Homo sapiens: one gene and its partners. The protein of the gene in region 2 interacts with the protein of the main gene of each other region in a pairwise test. Each region holds a gene or a part of one and is shown on either strand. Other genes may lie near its edges. The genes, in order: ARMC5, CNOT2, GALNT10 and MTFR1L.

The links.
Region 1: the proteins of CNOT2 (region 2) and ARMC5 interact in binary tests that used the Homo sapiens proteins (3 or more experiments, as listed by UniProt).
Region 3: the proteins of CNOT2 (region 2) and GALNT10 interact in a two-hybrid assay, tested with the Homo sapiens proteins (one large-scale study listed by BioGRID).
Region 4: the proteins of CNOT2 (region 2) and MTFR1L interact in binary tests that used the Homo sapiens proteins (3 or more experiments, as listed by UniProt).

The regions. Positions count from the first base shown.
Region 1 is NC_000016.10:31,465,026-31,467,779, forward strand, and holds the end of ARMC5 (armadillo repeat-containing protein 5), read left to right. Parts: coding exon of another isoform or gene 1-176; exon of another isoform or gene 177-824; coding exon 825-957; exon of another isoform or gene 958-1,035; coding exon of another isoform or gene 1,036-1,053; coding exon 1,054-1,864; 3' UTR 1,865-2,140; downstream 2,141-2,754.
Region 2 is NC_000012.12:70,323,315-70,326,985, forward strand, and holds part of CNOT2 (CCR4-NOT transcription complex subunit 2), read left to right. Parts: intron 1-3,671. UniProt on the Homo sapiens protein: Component of the CCR4-NOT complex which is one of the major cellular mRNA deadenylases and is linked to various cellular processes including bulk mRNA degradation, miRNA-mediated repression, translational repression during translational initiation and general transcription regulation.
Region 3 is NC_000005.10:154,189,195-154,193,532, forward strand, and holds the start of GALNT10 (polypeptide N-acetylgalactosaminyltransferase 10), read left to right. Parts: upstream 1-1,538; 5' UTR 1,539-1,672; coding exon 1,673-1,831; intron 1,832-4,338. UniProt on the Homo sapiens protein: Catalyzes the initial reaction in O-linked oligosaccharide biosynthesis, the transfer of an N-acetyl-D-galactosamine residue to a serine or threonine residue on the protein receptor. Has activity toward Muc5Ac and EA2 peptide substrates.
Region 4 is NC_000001.11:25,826,404-25,830,074, forward strand, and holds part of MTFR1L (mitochondrial fission regulator 1-like), read left to right. Parts: coding exon 1-8; intron 9-211; coding exon 212-423; intron 424-3,105; coding exon 3,106-3,427; intron 3,428-3,671. UniProt on the Homo sapiens protein: Mitochondrial protein required for adaptation of miochondrial dynamics to metabolic changes. Regulates mitochondrial morphology at steady state and mediates AMPK-dependent stress-induced mitochondrial fragmentation via the control of OPA1 levels.

The DNA of each region.
Region 1 (2,754 bases), on a different chromosome or scaffold from region 2:
GGGGTGGGGAGCAGGGCGTTCCAGTCCCTCCATGGGCCCACAGGCAGAGTTCTGCTGTGTCCTCTGCCCTAGCCCTGGGACCCAGATACCCTAACTCTAGATGCAGCCCCGCGCCCAGGATCTGGGCTGGTCTGTGCTTCTTTCCTGGCTCTGCCATTGGTTCAGCACTGTCCTGACTGCTCCCCACCAGCACGCTGACCTGTGAACCCCAGCCTCACCATCACCCCCAGCACTGCCAGGGACTGCCCTGTCTGCTGTGCCCTGACCACAGGCTGCTTCATGGCGTTACTGCTAGACCAAGGAGCCCTTCTGCTGGCCCTGTCCGGGCATAACAGAAGGCTCGCACTCTTGTCTTCTGGTCACACCTCACTATGTCCCCTCAGCTCCTATCTCTGTATGGCCTGGTTTTTCCCAGGTTATGATTATAGAGCGAGGATTATTACAATATTGGGATAAAGAGTAATTACTACAAACTAATGATTAATGATATTCATATATCTCTAAGATCTATATCTGGTATAACTATTCTTGTTTTATATTGTATTATACTGGAACAGCTCGTGTCCTCCGTCTCTTGCCTCGGCGCCTGGGTGGCTTGCCGCCCACACTTCAGGGGCCCAGACTTACACCCTGACTGTCCCACCTTCTGTCCTTGTCCTGGACCTCAGGTTCCCAGCGTCCCGAGCCCAGCACTGTCTCTTCAGTGCCCTGATTTCTCACCCAGAGGTTTCACCCTCCTTCATCTCACGGGCCCAGAGCCCTGTCTCACTCACCCCACCTGTCTTAGACCCCAGTTCCCAGCCTGACAAGCTTTCCACTCACAGGGGAGAGGCTACTGCAGAACCTGACGGTTCAGGCTGAGTCGCCCTTTGGGGTTGGGGCCCTGACGCACCTGCTGCTCTCTGGGAGCCCTGAGGACCGAGTGGCCTGCGCGCTGACCCTGCCCTTCATCTGCCGGTGAGTGGGAAGTGGGTGCCTTGCGGGGTTGGGGGAGGAGTGCTGTGTTTCCCAGGCCCGTTGCCCACCTTTTGAAAGGCCCTCTCTTCCCTGTAGGAAGCCCTCTCTGTGGCGCCGGCTGCTTCTGGAGCAGGGTGGTCTCCGGCTCCTCCTTGCGGCGCTGACCCGGCCGGCCCCACACCCGCTCTTCCTCTTCTTTGCCGCGGACTCCCTTTCCTGCCTCCAAGACCTGGTGTCTCCCACTGTGAGCCCAGCTGTCCCACAGGCAGTCCCCATGGACCTAGACTCACCTTCCCCTTGCCTCTATGAACCTCTGCTGGGCCCAGCCCCTGTCCCAGCTCCCGACCTGCACTTCCTGCTGGACTCAGGCCTCCAGCTCCCTGCCCAGCGAGCGGCCTCAGCCACCGCCTCCCCTTTCTTCCGGGCCCTGCTGTCAGGCAGCTTTGCAGAAGCCCAGATGGACCTGGTGCCCCTGCGAGGTCTGTCGCCTGGTGCAGCCTGGCCTGTCCTGCATCATTTGCATGGTTGTCGGGGGTGTGGGGCTGCCCTGGGGCCCGTGCCCCCACCAGGCCAGCCCCTGCTGGGTTCAGAGGCCGAGGAGGCACTGGAGGCTGCTGGCCGTTTCCTACTGCCTGGGCTGGAGGAGGAGCTGGAAGAGGCCGTGGGCCGCATCCACCTGGGACCCCAGGGTGGCCCGGAGTCAGTGGGTGAGGTGTTCCGCCTGGGCCGGCCCCGGCTGGCTGCCCACTGTGCCCGCTGGACACTGGGGTCAGAGCAGTGCCCGAGGAAGCGGGGTCTGGCCCTGGTGGGGCTTGTGGAGGCAGCAGGTGAAGAGGCAGGGCCCCTGACGGAGGCTTTGCTGGCTGTGGTGATGGGGATTGAGTTGGGGGCAAGGGTCCCTGCCTAGACTGTTGACGTCCCCTGGGAAGGGGACCCAAGGATGAATTGGCTGTGAAGGATCCTCCCTGAGACTGGCAAGGGAGGAGGCTGAGCAGAAGGAGTCATCATGGAGGAGCGGTGAGAACATGGAACCGGACTCCAAGATGACGATCTAAAGACCCGGGAGCGAGAAGCCAAGGCCAGGTTCTGGGTGTAGGGCCCAGAGAAGCAGAACAGCCCAGAGCCCCAGGTGCCTGGCCTGGCCTAGACCTCTGGAATTGAGATTAAACAATTTGGAGTTGGATACCTGTGTTGTGTGGTGTGTCTGCTTCTGTTTCTTCGCCCACCAAGCAGGGTCTTGTTCAGGTCTTTGTGTCTGGACACAGACCACCCTTGCATGTGACAGTTTAATAAGTACTGGGACAAGGTTGAGTTCCCAGGCTGCTGCTTAGGATGTGGTTTTGGGCCTCAGGGGAAGCCTGCTTCCTGCTGTCAGGGCCTCACTCCTCTGACATAGCAACCCAACTGGACACACAGATCTTGCTTGGGGCTGAAAGGGTTGTGCTGAGGGAATGCTGTTAGTCTGATGATGTGTTGAAGGCCTTTGCATTACTGACTGTTGCCCATCTTGGGCCCCCATTCTTTGGCTCCCTTTTCATCTCCTGGGCCACGTGTCCTACTGCTGTCTGTCTGAGGGAAGACCTGCTGTGGAGGGAATCTCTGAGCCCTGTCTTAGTCATGCCCAGAGACAGACAAAGACCTGTGCTGGCGTTGAGGGGAGGGAAGGGCTCACATTGCTTTGGTCTCCAAGGCAGGGTCTCCATCATCTGGCTTCCAGATCTTTTTTTTTTTTTTTTTTTTTGACTATTATTTTGCTTTAGATTCAGGGGGCACGTGCATGTTTGTTACACGGGTGTA
Region 2 (3,671 bases):
GCATATGACAAGCACTCAGTAAATCTTGAATGCATGATGAACAAGAAGCAGTCTCATATAATCTAGTAGGATAAGTACACAAATGATTTTACTATGTAGTAGAATAAGAAGTTCGAGGTTATTTGGATGTTTCAGATGAGATAGGGCACATTCAGGATGGTACGGCTGTAGACTATTTGGATATTTCAAAGACAGGAGTAATCAGGTATCTTGGAAAATGATTAGGAAAAGAATTTACTGATGAGATTATATTTGAGATTAGCATTGAACAGACTGTGAGTAAAGTTGTTTTAGCAGTGGGAATAACATCCACAGCATGGGATAGATTTAGGAATGGCCTACTTTATCAAGACAGGAGACACCTGTTAGGCTGTTATATTGATTTCAGCAAGAAGTACAGTCTTCACATTTCTGAGAGATTTATTTCAAGATCATTGCTACTTTTAAAGTTCAAGAACACAGCTATAGAATAACATTTTCCACCATAAAACATCCTTTTTGTGTGTGTGAAAACCATCACTTGATTAGACTATCTTATTTTATCTTCACTTTTGGTACCACCTGTTGGCTTTCTTTTCATAAGTATGACACACGCACACACACACACACAGAGCTAATATTTATTGAATATTATCTACTGTGTATCAGATGCGATTTTAAGTATTTATGTGAATTAACTCATTTAACCTTCACAGCAGCTCCACAAGAGTTTAAGGAATTTGTTCAAGGTTACACAGATTGTAAGTAGTAGAACCAGGATTATATTACTTTGTAAGAGTAACTATGTGAACATGAGCTGAAAACATCAGTTTCTTTGATACCTGAATGCCATGACCCTAGAAAGCCATTTGTACATAGTAGAAACTACCAGTGTTAAATCCACAGGTGCCAAGAATCTGTTGAATTAAGACATTGTGATAGAATGTATTCATTCTAATAATTATGTATTTATTGGGTGCCTACAATGAATGAGGTATTATTTCAAGATATAGATAAGAATATAGCAAATAACAAATGTCCTGTTTTTATGGAGAGAGAGAGAGAGAATGTTAGTAATACTGCAGTAGTCCAGGCAAAAAAAAATGGGATGACTTGGACTAGTGGAGGTGTTGAGAAGTGATCAGATTTGGTACATTTTGTAGATAGAGCTAACAGGACTTGATGATGTAGGAGTGAAAGAAAGGGATCAAGAATGATTTCTAAGGTTTCCGACCTGCAAACCTTTGTGAATGAGTGCCACTAATCTAGAGCAGAAATTTAGGTTGAGGAAGTGTAGAGTGTACTTGGGAGATCCACACAGCTATTCCACAGGTAAAGATTCTGTGGCACTCCTCTAAAGATCCAGCCAGATGTTGAGACTCTCAGCTGATTCGAGCACAGCAGCCACTTCTCATAGTTGTGGAAGCCACTTAGCTCCATCCATGTTTCTTGTCTTATACATTCTTAGCACCTAGAAGGCAAAGCCTGTTCCTCCGCCAGGTGTATAACTTGTCCTCATTTTCATATATCTCGTCATTCTCTCAGACTGAACTATTGTAACATTTATACCCACCTGACTCCCCACCACTGCCACCACCAAACACCTGGCTGAGTCTCATATGTTATTTAATTCATATACTATCTTCTGTCTCCTCCAGGAAAATTTTTCTGCTTCCAGACTCACTCTATTCCCAAGTCTGAGTTAGTGTGGTCCCTCCTACAAGCAGTCAAGCACGCTATGTCTACTGCATGTAAACACCTTGGTCATAGCACTTATTTATTTTTAAGTAGTCTTTTATATCTCTAGAACAAGAGAAGGGAAAGTATTCTTGCTGAGGAGTTAGATATGAGTAGTAAAGGACAGATTTGAGGAAAGGAATAGAGAAAGAAGAAAGAAGATTATAAATCAGATATGTAGTGTGTAAACAGAGTAAAATGCTTGTTAAGGTTAGAAAACATCTTTGGGTCTTGACAGAATTTTAATACTCTAGAACAGTGGTTCTCAACCCTGACTGCACCCATGGAAACACCTGGGGAATTTTTAAAATTCCACTGCCATGATTGCCCAAAATCACAATTGCTGGAGAGGAGACCTAGACATTAAAGTTCCCTGGATGATGCAAACATTATTAACTACCATTAAAAAATGGAAAATGATATTGGTTGCAAAAAAGGCATTGAAATAGGAGTCAAGAAATTGGATCATTGTCTTTAATGCCTCATTACTTGTGATCTTGAGCAAGTCACTTAATGCCTAGTGTGAATTCTTTATCTGTAACCTACTTGGATAATCTCTGGAGTCTTTTCTATTCTAAAATACTTTGAATTTAATGAAGAAAATTGCATAAGGAAATAATTTTACAGGAATCATTAACCAGCTAAGTGCAAGACAGGTTGAAGGTAAGAAGCCATTGAGATAAAGCACCATTTATGTTGTCCTTTTTAGTATGGGCATGCCAGTGAGTTCCTAGAGGAAGCTGGCTGCTTTGCAAATGGAAAAGGGGACACTTTAAGGCATCAGTTAAGGACTACTCTCTCCTGCCCCTATAAAGATTTTAGGGGACTTTATTTAAGTATGAATATTCAGGGATTTGGTTGCTATGATTTTATTTTTTCATGTAACTTAATATTTTTTATTTCTAGCAAAAAATTGAATAAAGAATGACGTATTTTGCCATAAGTGTTTAAGTGATGTGCTGTTAATCAGTTTGTGCAGTGGAAATAATTAATGGAATAATTTCTTAGATCATATTCTTTAAGGGTTTCTGAAAAATGATCAATAAGGAATTTGACTAACACCCTGCCAGATAAGAGGTAGGAATCTATTTAGAATGTGTTCGTATAGTCCTCCTAATATTGTGTTGTTATTATCAATTGTTAGATTGAAAGAAAAATTTGACTCAAAATTATAACCTTTTAAACTTTTTTTAAAATTTGTTTTTATTCTTTGTAAAAAGGTGATAACCTTTTTTATAAGATGATTATAAGAAGGAATTGAGAGGAAGTAGTATAGTGCTTTGTTGATAAGTGCCCAATAAATTTTAATTTTACTGTCCTTCCAGTCACCTGCTCATATACAAGCTCATTTATACATATTTATATTTTTGCCTGTTTTAGTTTTTTTATGCCAAGAAAAACTCCTTGAGTTCTTCCCATTTTTCTTTTTTTTTCTTTTTTTCAGCTGTATGTCCTATTCTTGGCATAATATTTTAGAGATGATTTTTCTGTGATTGTTTCTAATTATACTAGTGAGAGATTAGATTTTTTTCCCCTTGACCCTATTCAGTTGTGTTAGTTTGACTCAAGCAACTCAAAGTTAATGACTTAGTATATTTAGTTTCCAAAAAACAAATCTTTATATATACCTTTCCAGTGCCATTCTTTATGTTTTAAAGAAATTCAGTTTTTAAAATAAATTTAAAGTAACAATTATTAAGTATTCAGGGGTTGATGATCCAATTTGAAGTGATATATTCTTTTTTGATCTTTTTATACTACTTCAACAAAATTAAACTTAGACTTTTTGAATTTATTAGCTGTTTTTGTGAAGATTAATTTTAGAAAGCTAAAATTAAACACTGAAAGTAAGTTACTTTATTCCATACGGTCTCTGTCCAGTTTTAGCACTAAAATCAGTTCAAGGATGCCAATCCCTAATTGGCCAAATAGCCTTACCATTCTTGTTTTCTTCT
Region 3 (4,338 bases), on a different chromosome or scaffold from region 2:
GTCAACAGCACAAGAAGGAAAACACAAAGCCTGCAACAGGCTAAGCGAAGCTCAGGGCAGGGCAGGGCAGGGCACGGCAGGAGACAGAACGTTTGATCAGCCCTAGCAGGTCATAGGAGAGGAGCATGATGGACTCTAGAGCCGAGGTGATGGAAGCCTTGAAGGTTTTGCTGCAGAAATCAAGAACTGAGCTGTGATGTCAGAAAACTGAATCCCCATCGCTCAGCCTGGAGCTGGAAGAACTTGGAGGCAAGAGTTGCCAGAACGCTGGTCAAGGACTAGTGGCAGCTAGGCACGAAGGTCAGCGGCTGAGCTAGAGAAGCAGAGAATCAAGAGGACGAATGTGGGGGTGGCAGAGAGTAAGGTAGCCAAGGGGGTGCTCCGTTCCACCGCATCAGGGAGGAGGCAGCTAAGTGACCAGCGTCGAGCGCCCCGAGGAGGAGCCGCTGGCTGGCATCACCGTCGGAGTCCGGCTCCACGGCCCTCCGCATCGCCCAGAAGCCCGACTCCTCTGTCAAAGCCCTCGCCACAGTTACAGACACATTGCCTGGTCTAGTGAAATTACGTGTTTCATGTTTCAGCTCCCAGACGTCAGGGCTCAGGTCTGTTTTCATTTCATCCCAGAGCCTGGCACAGTGTTTGGCACATAGTGGCGCTCGCCAACGGTTTGCTGAGAGCTTTCCGGGAAGGGCTCAGTGCGCTTAGGATCCAAAAGCACGCGTGAGAATGCAGGGCATTCTAACTCCAAGGGGGTTGGACTTGCGTGAGGAAAGGTGCTGCAGAGAGGCTACCGTCACTTACCCACCCGCCGGTTTGCAGGATCTACAGACGGGCGGCGGCCGGGCACAGCTCCCTACAGTTTGCAGAGGGCGTTCACACCTAACGCCAGGGCCCCCCTAGAGGAAGAAAACCAGGGCCCGCCCGCGGAACAGTGAGCGTGCAGCACGGCTGTGGCCCCGTTTCATGGCCGGGAACACCGAGTCGCCGGGGTCAAAGTAGGTCCGCAGGTCCTGGGGGCCGAGCCTAGGTGGGCTGGAAGTGACAGCCCCGGGGGCTCCAGGCTCAGAACGCCCGGCGGGGCCCCAGCACTATTTGCATATCCCCAGGGAGGCAGCAAAGGTTCGGCTGCAGTCCCGGGCGGAGGTTGCCGGGCGGGGCGGCAGGGTACCCGGGCGAGCGGACATGCACCCCACCCAGCGGTGCCCAGCCCGCACCAGTTAGCGCCCAACTCGCCAACTCCGGGACTTTCGCAAAGCTCCAGAGGGCGGGGGAGCCGCCGAGGAGTGGGACGGACCATCGCGGCTCGAGAGGGGGGAAGCGCTCCGGCCCGGCATCCTGCAGCGCCCGGGCGGGCCGAGACGCTCCGTGAGAGGGCCGAGCCTGCAGCGCAGAGACTCGGCGGTCGACGCGGGGGCAGGCGGCGCGGGGCGGGCGGCTCGGCGGGGCCCGGGGGCGGTGGCGGCGGCGACGACCCCCTCGTGGCGGCGGCGTGGTGGCGGCGCCCAGCTCCCCGGCCGGCGAGCGGCGGAAGTGCCGCGGAGTTGGAGCGGGGCCGGCGCCGCAGCCGCTTCTGCTGGCTGAGCTGCTGCCGCCGCCGGGCGGACGGGCGGACGCGCGGAGCTGGGGGCGGCGCGGCGGGGCCGGCGGGGCGCGGCGGGGCTGACCGGCCCCGATGAGGCGGAAGGAGAAGCGGCTCCTGCAGGCGGTGGCGCTGGTGCTGGCGGCCCTGGTCCTCCTGCCCAACGTGGGGCTTTGGGCGCTGTACCGCGAGCGGCAGCCCGACGGCACCCCTGGGGGATCGGGGGCGGCGGTGGCGCCGGCGGCGGGACAGGTGAGTCCCCCCGTTGCTACAGGCCGGGAACACCCCCTTCCCGAATTCACTTTTAGCCTGTGGTTCCTTCCTCCACCTTCTGCTGTCTGCCTCCTCAGAGTCAGCTCCGAGACTCTTCAGCTCTTCCCATTTTCCGGATGGGAAAATTAAGTCCTGTCGGGACTTGTCCAGGGTCCCACGCCAGTCAGAGACTGAGTCCGAACTAGCACTCAGGACGCTATTTCTCACCACATGTTACCACCTTCCTTTCTGTCCCCGTCTGGTATTCCTTGACGTCTTCCAGCGGATCTCTTTTGAAGGATCCTATCTGCATCCCTGTATCCCAGGATGACTCCTGCCTTGTGCCAATAGGAATGAAGATTCTGGTTCTTCTATTTGGTGTCCAGGTCCTCTCTGCTTCCCTCCTCCCACCCCCCCCCCCCCACAACCCCTACCTGCTGATCCCAGTGTTCTTTGCTCAGGTCAGCCCTTTTCCTGATTTCTCATCTGCCCAACGAGACACCCGGGCCTTCCTCCTCTCCCCATTTATTCAACACCCCCGCCCCAACTCTAGCCTTTTCCTTTCTCAGATCCTGTGGATTCCTTGCAGAATGTAAAGATCATGCTCCCTTTAAAGCTTCAAGCCCCTGGGGGTGGAGAAGGGGGTAAGCTCCTGGTCCTTGAGGGACCTGCTGCCTTTGACCTTATGGGAGTCCAGAGGTGGGGCTCTGGTGGGGGGACCCCCAAAATGTCCCAGAGGCTATTGGTGCCCAGTGTCCTGAGGATGGAACACCAGAAGCCTTCCCTATCTCTTCTGAACTTGTCTAGTCTGGTTAGTTGTAGTGTTTATTGCAGCCAAAACTGGGATCGGAATGGTTTCTGCCTCCTTTGAACTTACCCACGTATGTTTGTGTGTATGTGTGCGTGCACGCATTTAGACTAGCAGCTCCCTCATAGCAGAAGCTCTGTCACATCACTCCCACCCTCCCAGGAGGTGCTAGTGAGTGTATTGCTTAGACTGTTTCATATAGTGGAACATTTCAGGCTTTCTTACGGGATTTCTCTGGTCCCATGAGAAGTGGATAATTTGTGTATCAGGGTCAGACTTGACTGACTGTTGGCTGGCCTCGACGAAAGAGGCTGGCTTTTCTGAGATTGATGGTTTTCCTTATTCTTCCCAGTATCAGGCTGCTGTCTAGGCAGTCTGGCATCTGGAGCACAGAGGGCTCTTTGCTACAGAGCTGACCAATTTGAGCTCCGCCTGTAACTCTGTTAATTGCTGCAAAGCATCCCAGAGGGTCTCATTGATCTTTCTGGTAGAGCTTACTGTTTAGAAACTAAGGTTTCCATCTCTTTCCTAAACCCCTGGTTCAAACCCTGACAGCTAGCTTAGACCTCTCTCCCTGAAATTCTGTATCTGTATGGATTTTCCGTTCATGAAATCTCTTTCCTCTGTTCCTATTCAGTACCAGCATCAGAGTCAGGAGTTCCAGGGTTCTGACCTCAGCTCTACCACTAACTTACTGTGTGTGTCCTTGATCACCTTTCATCTCCTTTTCTGAGCCTTACTTTCTTGGTCTGTAAACCATGATTATTGGTCCAGTTCTAACATTCTGTGATACTATCAGTTAATCAATGAGGAATACAACGGTCCCTTCTTTTTTTCTGTCTTGAGTCCAGAGTTCCTTGTAGCATCCCTAGCTGTGGAGGCTCCATACTGGACACAGCTCCAGGTCAAGGGGGAGTGTCCTACCCTAGTGCAAACTCTCCTTTAGAATAGCTGTAGCCCATTCTAAAATAGTGCTTGACATTCTGCCTCTGCTTGGAGAAAGACCTCGTATTTCATTTGCAATAGATGCCAAAGACATCCTGATTTTCATTTCTGTAGACCCAGATGGGTAGAGAAGGTCAAGGTTAACTGCCAGTTTGGCCTGAGCTTTCAAAGTAAATTACTCACTTGTGCAAGAGGGTATTGATAGAGTAAGGCAGACTTTTGGGCAGGGAGAGAGAGGGGAGCAACAGCTGGGTGCTGCTCAGAGCCCCTAACTGAAATGGATAGACAGGCTCATCTGGGAAGATCTAGTTTTTGTTCATTTCTTTTTCTCTGGAATAGCATGAAGAGGAGGAGGAAGAAGTGGTGAAGGGGGTTTGGGGGTTTGGGGGGAATACCAACTGATTATTCTTGCTTTAAAGAAAATCTCTTTGCTTCATGGGAGCAGCAGAATGGAGCTGTTTCCCCAATGATAAGCTCTTCTAGGTGCTACAGGATTCAGCATTCATCTGCTGCCTTTCAAGAACGCCCTGCCAAATTTCCACACAGCCCCTTTTTGTTTCACTCTCCCACAGATGCAGAGCACTGGGCTTGGCCCCCAGTCCGTTGTTTGAATGTCAGCTGGCCTTGAGGAAAGAGGCTGACTTCTCAGAGTGATGGTGTTCCATCCCTCATCCCAGTGTACTGGAACATACATGTAACATGCCAGGCTGCTATCTGGGAAATCTGGCATCTTGAGCATACAGAGCTTTTTCAA
Region 4 (3,671 bases), on a different chromosome or scaffold from region 2:
CGGGTCAGGTAGTTGAGGCAGTAGCTGGTCTGCTAAGGAATGGAGAACTTCCCAGAAGAGGTGGCAGGCAGCAAGGAGAGAGGAATGAGAACTGTGGGCTCAGAGAGGAGCAGAACCTTACTATACTACTCTCACAGAAGTGGGGGAAGGAACCTTAGGAGCACAGTGGCCTGCTGTCTCTAACTGATCTACTTGGTTTTCCCTGGTCCAGGAGTGATACGCGCCCCCTGAGGCACACCTGGAAACCCAGCCCTCTGATTGTCATGCAGCGCAATGCCTCTGTTCCCAACCTGCGTGGGTCCGAGGAGAGGCTTCTGGCCCTGAAGAAGCCAGCTCTGCCAGCCCTAAGCCGCACTACTGAGCTGCAGGACGAGCTGAGCCACTTGCGCAGCCAGATTGCAAAGATAGTGGCAGCTGATGCAGGTAGGAGCCCCTGTGCCAGGGCCAGAACGTAACAGGCTGTTCCTTTCCCCTGGCTCTTGGGCAGGATAGGGGTAAAGAAAGTGGTAATCCTTGGTTTGCAGGTACTTAGGTTCCGGGCCCTGGGGTTGTCCTGAAGCCTGGCTAGCCAGTAGTGCCTCTTAGATGGTTTCTACCAGCCATTTTGGGCTGAATGGTTTGGTTAAGAACAAAATATTAACCTGTGACCCCAGGCAGAGTCCCTCCCTTAGCCCCCAAACTGATACCCTCTTCTAAGTGTCTTTAAGATCACATCTTACATAAGCCCACAGTAGCTTTTTTTTTTTCTCCTCTGAGTGAGTCTTGCTCTGTCGCCCAGGCTGGAAGTGCAGTGGCACGATCTTAGTTCACTGCACTCTGCCTCCCAGGTGCAAGCGATTCTCCTGCCTCAGCCTCCTGAGTAGCTGGGACTACAGGGGTGTGCCACCAGGCCTGGCTAATTTTTATATTTTTAGTAGAGACAGAGTTCCACCATGTTGGCCAGGCTGGTCTTGTATTCCTGACCTCAGATGACCCACCCACCTCAGCCTCTCAAAGTGCTGGGATTATAGGTGTGAGCCACCGAGCCCAGCCAGTTTTCCTTTTTTTGGAGACAGGGTCCTGGTTCTTGCTCTGTTGCCCAGGCTGGAGTGCAGTGGCGCAATCTTGGCTCACTGCAACCTCTGCCTCCCAGGCTCAAGCGATTCTCGTGCCTCAGCCTCCTGAGTAGCTGGAATTACGGGTGTGCACCACCACACCTGGCTAATTTTTTTATTTTTAGTAGAGACGGGGTTTTGCCACATTAATCAGGCTGGTCTCAAACTCCTGGCCTCAAGCAATCCACCCAGCTCGGCCTTCCAAAGTGCTAAGATTATAGGCATGAGCCACTGTGCCCGCGGTTGAAACAAGAGTCTCATTCTGTCACCCAGGTTGGAGTGCGGTGGCACGATCTTGGCTCACTGCAACCTCCACCTCCTGGGTTCAAGCAGTTCTCGTGCCTCTGCCTCCCGAGTAGCTGGGATTATAGGCGCATGCCACCATGCCCAGCTAATTTTTTGTATTTTTAGTAGAGATAGGGTTTCGCCATTGCCCAGGCTGGTCTCAAACTCCTGAGCTCAAGCAATCCACTTGCCTCAGCCTCCCAAAATGCTAGGATTACAACCATGAGCCACCGCGCCCTGCTTTCCTTTTCAATACAAGAAGTAAACATTCCCCCCACCACCACTGAGACTTACCCTTTTTAAGCACCTATCTTCCCTTGCCTTGTTGTTTCTACCAGGAATCACAAGTGGCTTTACCACTTCAGTTCTTATACTGCTAGTGACATTGTCCCCATGCCCCACCCTTCAAAGTGGGGAGTTTCATGACATTATGTTATGTTTTCTTATCTCAAATTGGTGGACTTTTTTGGTGGAAGGAGAATTTCATAAAGTTGGAGATCTTGGCCTTAAAATACAGTGGTCGGGCACTGTGGCTTACGCCTGTAATCCCAACACTTTGGAAGGCTGAGGTGGGTGGATCACCTGAGGTCAGGAGTTCGAGACCAGCCTGGCCAACATGGTGAAACCCTGTCTCTATAAAAAATACAAAAATTAGCTGGGCATCGCAGCATGTGCCTTGAACCTGGAAGGTGGAGGTGGAGGCAGAGGTGGAGGTTGCAATGAGCTGAAGTTGCACCACTGCACTCCAGCATGGGCGACAGAGTGAGACTCCGTCTCAAAAAAAGAAAAAAAAAAAACAGTGGTCTATTATGCAAACAAGCCCTGTAACCCACCCCTCCAGCTTTCTGTCTACAGTTAAGGCAGAACCACTGGAAATGGATGGGAAGCCTGCCTTAACCAGAGGCATGGACAGCCAACAGGTGGATCGCTCCCAAGATGCTCAGGGCTTATCTTCATATTCCTCCCATCCTCATTTTTTCACTCTGCATTGACTCAGAGTCATAGCTCTGAAATTTATCATTTGGTAGGACACATGAAAATCATGGTGTTCTTTGAAATCTTCATGTATTTAATTTCTTCACATGGAAGTTTTATGAAGAATTGTACTGAAACTTTGTTATTTCTTGGCTACTTTTTTGTCATCCAAGAGACAAGCAGAAGTAACATCTTTTTTAGAAACATAGTTTTTAGTGTATTTAGTGTTTTTAAAGTATTTTTAGAAATGTAAAAACTGAGGAAATTCTCTCCACTGAAATTTGGGGAGGTTGGGAGGTCTGTTACCATTCTGGTTTTGCTCAGAACATGTCTTCTAGTTCACAGATAGCAAGATTTCAAAGGAGCATAGTCAAAAGCACTAGTCTAGTTAGAGAAAAGGACAAATTCAGGCCTTAGCTCTTATCTCTGCTGCTTTGGCCTATGACAGGGCTGTCACTCCACAGCCTATTGTGGAATGGGAGCTTTTAAATGCCAAGGCCATTATGGGGCTGGGTTTTCCTGCCTTCCTGGAACACTGGAAAAGCCCAGTGCTTCTACAGCTTTCTGAGCCCCCGAGTGAGAAGCATAGTGGAATGACCCTCCACTGGCTACAGATACCATCCTGGCTCTCCCAGATTGTCATGGTGTCAGCCCAGGAAATGAATGTTCAGTAGGCAGGGCTGTGGGGAGAAGATATTGCTACTGTGTTCTAGCCCCAATGTCCACCCATGCCTATTGTTTTCTCTTTCAGCTTCGGCTTCATTAACGCCAGATTTCTTATCTCCAGGAAGTTCAAATGTCTCTTCTCCCTTACCTTGTTTTGGATCCTCATTCCACTCTACAACTTCCTTTGTCATTAGTGACATCACCGAGGAGACAGAGGTGGAGGTCCCTGAGCTTCCATCAGTCCCCCTGCTTTGTTCTGCCAGCCCTGAATGTTGCAAACCAGAACACAAAGCTGCCTGCAGTTCGTCTGAAGAGGATGACTGCGTCTCTTTGTCCAAGGCCAGCAGCTTTGCAGACATGATGGGTATCCTGAAGGACTTTCACCGAATGAAACAGAGTCAAGATCTGTAAGTATCTGATGAGGAGCTCTGGTATCTATTTACTCAGAGTTGCCCATGGCCAATTATGTAATGCAACATACTTACATAGTAAGTTCTTAGTAGTACCATATGTTATGTCATTCATAAAGCTTGCTGACTACCTGCTTGCCAGTGCCTGGGGCCCCAGTTTGAGGAAAGAGCAACACTACATTTATTGGGTTTGGTCACCCCAACCAAATATGAGGCTAGTAGGGATTTTACAAGAAGGCTC